2 separate regions of the Homo sapiens genome follow, and region 2 is linked to region 1. Evidence: fine-mapped expression QTL. A gene starts in region 1. The other region holds a variant in brackets. All regions are shown on one strand. Distances are from middle to middle.

Evidence for each region. PIP is the estimated chance that this variant, and not a neighbour inherited with it, causes the effect.
Region 2: its variant is the best candidate, but not a certain one, in a credible set for the expression of PAK5 in tibial artery (GTEx, PIP 0.52).

The regions. Positions count from the first base shown.
Region 1 is chr20:9,837,645-9,840,560 of GRCh38, forward strand. PAK5 (p21 (RAC1) activated kinase 5) reads right to left here and starts at 1,432. Exons shown (of 10, transcript NM_177990.4): 1 at 1,118-1,432.
Region 2 is chr20:9,757,739-9,760,654 of GRCh38, forward strand. All of the region lies in intron 1 of PAK5 (p21 (RAC1) activated kinase 5), which reads right to left. Among named protein-coding and RNA genes, the nearest start is that of PAK5, 80 kb to the right of the region's middle. The variant T/A (reference allele first, on the strand shown) is at 1,593.

The DNA of each region.
Region 1 (2,916 bases):
AGAGAAAGAGTGTCTACAGCCTCCAAGCCCCAGAAGAGAAGCGGTTGCACTAGAAGATTTTTGTGAGTTACCTAAGACCCTGTGGCTATGTCTTGGTAGAACTCCGTAGAATGCCAGGTTTCCTGATTTTCCTAAAAGTGTGTTCAGTCTTTCAAGCTGTCATCAACTATTAACAATGACACTTTCCTCTGGCTTTGTGCCAACTTTTCTTTTTGTTTATTATTCTGGCCATAAAAAGACCACCATAAATAGCCTCAGCGTTTCAGGTTCCCTTAATTGATATCTAATGTTGACAAATTAACTCAGCCCGAGTTGAAAGCTCCATATACACACACATGGTTTCAAGAAGGGCGATCGCGCTTATCCTCCAAACTGAGCAGTGATGATCCCTGGACTTCTCAAGTTTACCCTCTAGGAGGCTGACATGGCACACAATTTTGACAAGAGTTTGGAACCAAGATCCTCTTCCACGCCCTGCTCACAAGGGTGCCCACAAGCAGAAGTTCTCTCTCTGTCTCTCCATTACAACCCACCAGGCGCGCGCGCACACACACACGCGCGCACACACACACACACACAAATAACAAAGGAAAACACAGCCTCATAAAGGCTCAGCTATTGCATCCTCCAGTCCACACCTGCCAAAAGACAAAAACCATGCGGGAATCCTGCTCTGGCAATATGTCCAACACTTCTCGGGAAAAGCAGCGCCGTGGCACCCCCAGGGCGTGCGCTGCTGTATACACACAAAGAACTGGTGCTGGGCTTGCGAGCAGTTCGGGGTACCAGCACGCTCTCAGGGCTGGAATCCGGGGTTCTCCTCCACGCCCTCCCGCCCAGCAAAATGGAACCATCCTTTATTTGGTTGGTAGAGAGCCCAGGCTGGATAGTAGCGCATGGGTTGAGGGTGGGCGGTCCCCTATCCCTACCCTCCAGGCAGCAGGTCCCTAGCCTTTGCATCTCCTAGGAGATGCAGGATCGCGCTGTCACAGTGGTCCTCTTCGCATCCTCTCCCGGCAAAGAGAGATGCTCCGGTTACCAGCGGCGCGCATCCCCGCAGGCGCCTCTCCTCTCGCCGATACCCACCCAGGCAGTCCCGACAGGCGCGCCTGCCTACCTGGTGGCCGGCTGTCAGCGAAGCGGCGGTGCCTCAGCCCCTTCTCAGCTGCTACAGCGCTCCCAGCGCCATGTTCCCGGTCTCCCCGGGCGCACGCTGGGGAACTACTACTGGCTGGGTAGGGGCAAGGGGGGCGGGGGCCAGCGGGAGGGGGTGAGAGGCAGAGCCACAGCTTTCTACTCTCCACCCAAACCTCCCCCAGCTACTGAGCATGCCCAGCTGCCCGGCTTCGCCCCTCGGAGGACTGTCCATGAGCGTACGCAGCTGCTCCGGGTTTTCGTGGCAGCCGGCGGGAGGCAGGCTGTAGCGGCGGCCGGGGGTGGAGGTGAGGGGGAGGGTCGGGGGGCGTGTCTACACTCAGGGTGCAGGAGCCAGGAGCCGGGAGCTGGAGCAGGCGACCAATCCAATCACGTTTACTCCCAGTCGTCCCCGGCGGGGGCAGCTCCTGCACGCCCTCTCCCCCAACACTCGGGATTTGCAGAAATGTTGTTCAGGACCATTGCAGGATTGAGTTTTGCTTAAGAGGCTAGCAGAGGTGGGGAGGAGGAGGGGCTGAGAAGCAGAACAGTGGGCTGGCCTCTTTGCCACCACCTGGACCGGTGATTCTCAAACTTTCATGTGCCTGTGAATTAAAATGCAGATTCAGATTCAATTGGCTGGGTCCTGAGATTCTGCAAGCCTAACAACCTCGCAGGTGATGCTGCTGCTGCTGGCCCTCCCACCACTCCGAGTAGCAAACATCTAGAGAACCCCTTATCTGTGACCTCTCAGTGGCCATCCTTCAATCCGCCAGCCTAGCAATGGTCTCTGGTGTCCACAGAGACTCCTCCAGCCTGGGGTTGCTGAGCCTTACCTGGAAGGAGTGTTTGTGGGGCTAGGCTGTGACCACCCAGCTTCTCCTTGGCTGCTGTCTGATTTCGAATTTAAGGCCCAGGGGAAGAAGGATTCCTGGACCTTTTCATGCTCACTTTGCTAGCTGGCTAGTAAGCCAGTTGCTGGATGAGCTGCCCCGGTCAAGTCTGAACCAGTCTGCCTTGGCTGTCCCCTTGCCTTTCCTGAGCTGGGACAAAAACTCAGACTGGGCATCAAAGTGTTTATTGTACATCTAATAGCAAGCTTGGGCTTGCCTAGTTAAGAAAGCCGACAGATTATGACAAACATAGAGCGCATTTTTGTACCAAGAGATGTCAGGCCTTTGTGTTCAGTGATGTTTGGGCTGAAGTTTGCAACGATATTTGTGGTTCAACTTAAACTTCCCAGTTGCCTACTGCCCTCCCAGACTCTTGAAGTCTCCAGCATTATCAAGACTCTAGTGAATGAAAGACATTCACGAAGTAGTCCTGAGTTTTCACCCTTGGAAATGAAGAAGCCACGCTCTTGTCTGTCTTCAGCTGCCACAAGAGTACCCTTATGAGCTAGTAGTGGATATGGAATCTGATCCCATAACTAGATAGCAGGTTACAAAATAAGGATTTGTATCTCTCCGTTCCTTATTATACTCAATGACCTTAGACAGTTTTCTAGCTAATAGTATAGTAGTTATCATTTCCCCTTGCTTGTTTTCCATTCACTTAGTACCTTTAATATTGTACTGGCCATATCAAAACAGAAACCACAGGATAAATGGATGATTACTTTTCTCCCTCAGTAGTCCCATGTCCTTGTGTATCATACTCATCTCTTCCTTCTCAAAGCTGCACACAGCCCTAACAACCTACCCACTGCCACCATCGTCACCCCCACAACTATATGCATAAATATTTTCTACTTTTGACTTTCTTATATGTGTGCTCACATAG
Region 2 (2,916 bases), 80 kb before region 1:
ATTTTTATGCACATGTATACTGATCTCCTTCATGCTGTTCTATTTTTAAACTTTTACTTGAATTCTCCTCCTCTTCTTTCAAAATACTTTGATAGTAGTAGAATCAGTTCCCTGGATAAAATGCATCCACTCTTTATTATCTCACACCACGTAACCTGTCATTACAGTGTTTTAGACGCCAAGCCTCACAGTGACAAGAACAATCAAATGTTGAATTCGGGCACAGACAAAAGTAAATATGGATGTTTGTTGCTCTTGGTATATAAATAACAGGATTCTTTGCAGAAGGAGTTTGCTTCAGAAGTTATGCTGCCCTTGGGAGCTACTTCATAGCCTTATTTGGATTGCAAGCTTTTTTATACTTTCCTACAATAGCAAATGTATGCGATACTTTCTGGGGCAACAAAGAATTGTGTGCATGCCTGCTTTTGCTCTTGAGGCAGCCTTAGCAGGGAATAATAGTGTTGCTAAGTCATTTATCTGAAAATGTGAGGTACGGATGTCCTTTCTAGCCTTATGCTTTGTGGTGAACTCATCATACTATTAACAGAAGTATAGAATCCAGCATTTTACCTCCCCAACACATGTGGCCAAAACATTAGCATAGAAGGGAGTGGCATCGAACACATGAATGTTTTCTCATGTACTGAACACCAACAGATCTCCCCACATGCCAAGCCCGTGCAACAACAGTGATGTCTCCTTCCTATCCATGCCTACCATGGGCTAGCTCAATTCCCATCTTCTATCTCAGCGAGTACCTGGAAGGGAGTACTTTGCATAGTGGTATGCTGAAGCCAGCTCGCATAGAACAGTGATAGCTGATTGCAGCCTCTTGTTTCAGCCCCACTACCATGACTTTGTGACATTGCATTGGTAGCTTGAAATTGGCCATGGTATTTAGATTTTGAAAACTTGCCAAGGCTAAAATTCAAGGCTTTCCCCCTTGGAGTCTAGGTTGTTAAATATTTATCAGTTCACCACTAAATGTGTGGGAACTAAAATGAACATAGCAGCTTATAGAAATAAAATGTGTTCTATTTATGTCCTTGCCCCAGTAAGGACAAGAAATGCCTCTGTGACATCCACAGGCTCCCTTCTTTATAAATTGTCTACTTTGTCTTCTGCCTGGAGGCCATGTCTAAGGAAAAGAAAGGCAGCAAAGTTTTTACCAACAAAACAGGCTCTGGGGCTCAGGTTTCAGAGCCCACTGAGTGTAGTTCCAGGTCTGCTCTCCAAAGGGGACAGAACCCCTTGTGACTCCAGCCACAACACAGTCCCTGGAGGAATTATGCACTAATGTAATATTTGCTTGGCTCCTAGGAACTCTTACTGAGAAAGCAAGCAAGCATTCAATATGAGAACACAATCAAATAAGGAAGATTTCACTTAACACTACGTCCTACAAGATAACAAATCCAGGAAAAGTATTAATTGAAAGGGTAGCAAGTTATATAAGATGATGCAGAATGTAGCTGGGCTTTTTAATTTTACTATCTCTTTTCACTGCTAAACATCTGATAACACCATGTTTTAATAAAATTACTTTGTAGCATATTTACATTTGTCAGAACCTGTTTCTTATCATATCC[T/A]ATAGATAAGTGTTCCTCTGTTTGCATTATGGGAAACTTCTATTTGGCAAGGTGAACAGATGATCACGATCATCTTTTGAGAAGTATTCAGCTAATGTCTGCTTGTTGCCTCACACCTATGGGAAATCTAAAATTGTGATATTTCACAGAATTTAAGGGAGAGATTGTTAAAACACAGATTCCTGGCCACACCCCAGTGATTCAGAGTCAGTAGGTGAGGAGCCCATGAATTTGCATCTCTATCAAGCTCCCAGATGAAGGAAAGGGATCCTCACTTTGAGTAGCCCTGCCCTGAACAAAGTTACATCTTGAGTAGTTGGTGATGCCTGTGGTACAAGGTCGAAAAAGGAGGCTCTCCTGGTCCCATGCATGGGGCTTTTTTGAAACCCACAACGTTTACCCAAACCCAGCTACGAAATGACTCCCTGGAGGCAGGAAGAGAATGTTGCCTGGTCTCAGGAATGTTGGGTCATGGGGAACAAGTCCCTATAAGACACCAGCAGACTATTTTAAACTCTGTGTCTAGGGTTACATTCAAGTCGTAACATATACCAACCATCTCATTCTCTATTCAATATCCGCCTGTCAGCCATTTAGTCAAATAAAACCTTTTAGGAAAGAATACAGCTTTGAGCTGCAAAAAGCTGCTATCCTACTGGGAGGGGTCACCCTACGCTAATGTTTTCCAGGGCTTATATTGAAAGTGTGTAAATATTTGTAATTAAATTGAACCATGTAGCTGTCCTTCCCATGTGATGTTATTGGGTAGCTGTGACCACCAGAGTGTTATAGCAACATGAGACATATTTACTGAAAATCATAATGGCTTTCAATAACTGAAGTACTACTTTGTTTTGTGGGGGATGTCAAAAATTAGAGCCAAAAACAGAGACAGAAACTTAAAAAGCTCATTCCAGACTTTTAGGACAATGACAAAATAGTGAAAAAATCTTGAAACTTTATAATTTAGTTCTCCATGCTATTCATCAAGAGTTCCAGTATTGAGGGCTAAATGATCTACTTGATCAACAATTCATTCTGGTTAACAGCCAAAAAATGGCTCTTGTTTTCAATTCTTAGCAAAACTGTCTGATACAAATCTTCCGTTCTCCCATTTGGATAGGGACTCATAAAAGGTGTGAAGTGTCAACATTAATTCTACAAATCTACTGGGCTGCTCCTGACAGAATGGTCAGAAAAGATCCCAGAAGTTCTCAACAGAGAATTTCAAGTTTTTGATGGTTGAGAAAAAAAAAAAAAAATGTATATTTGAGTTTAGCTTCTTTTTGAAGTTCATCATCTATATCAATTCATCTGACATTTA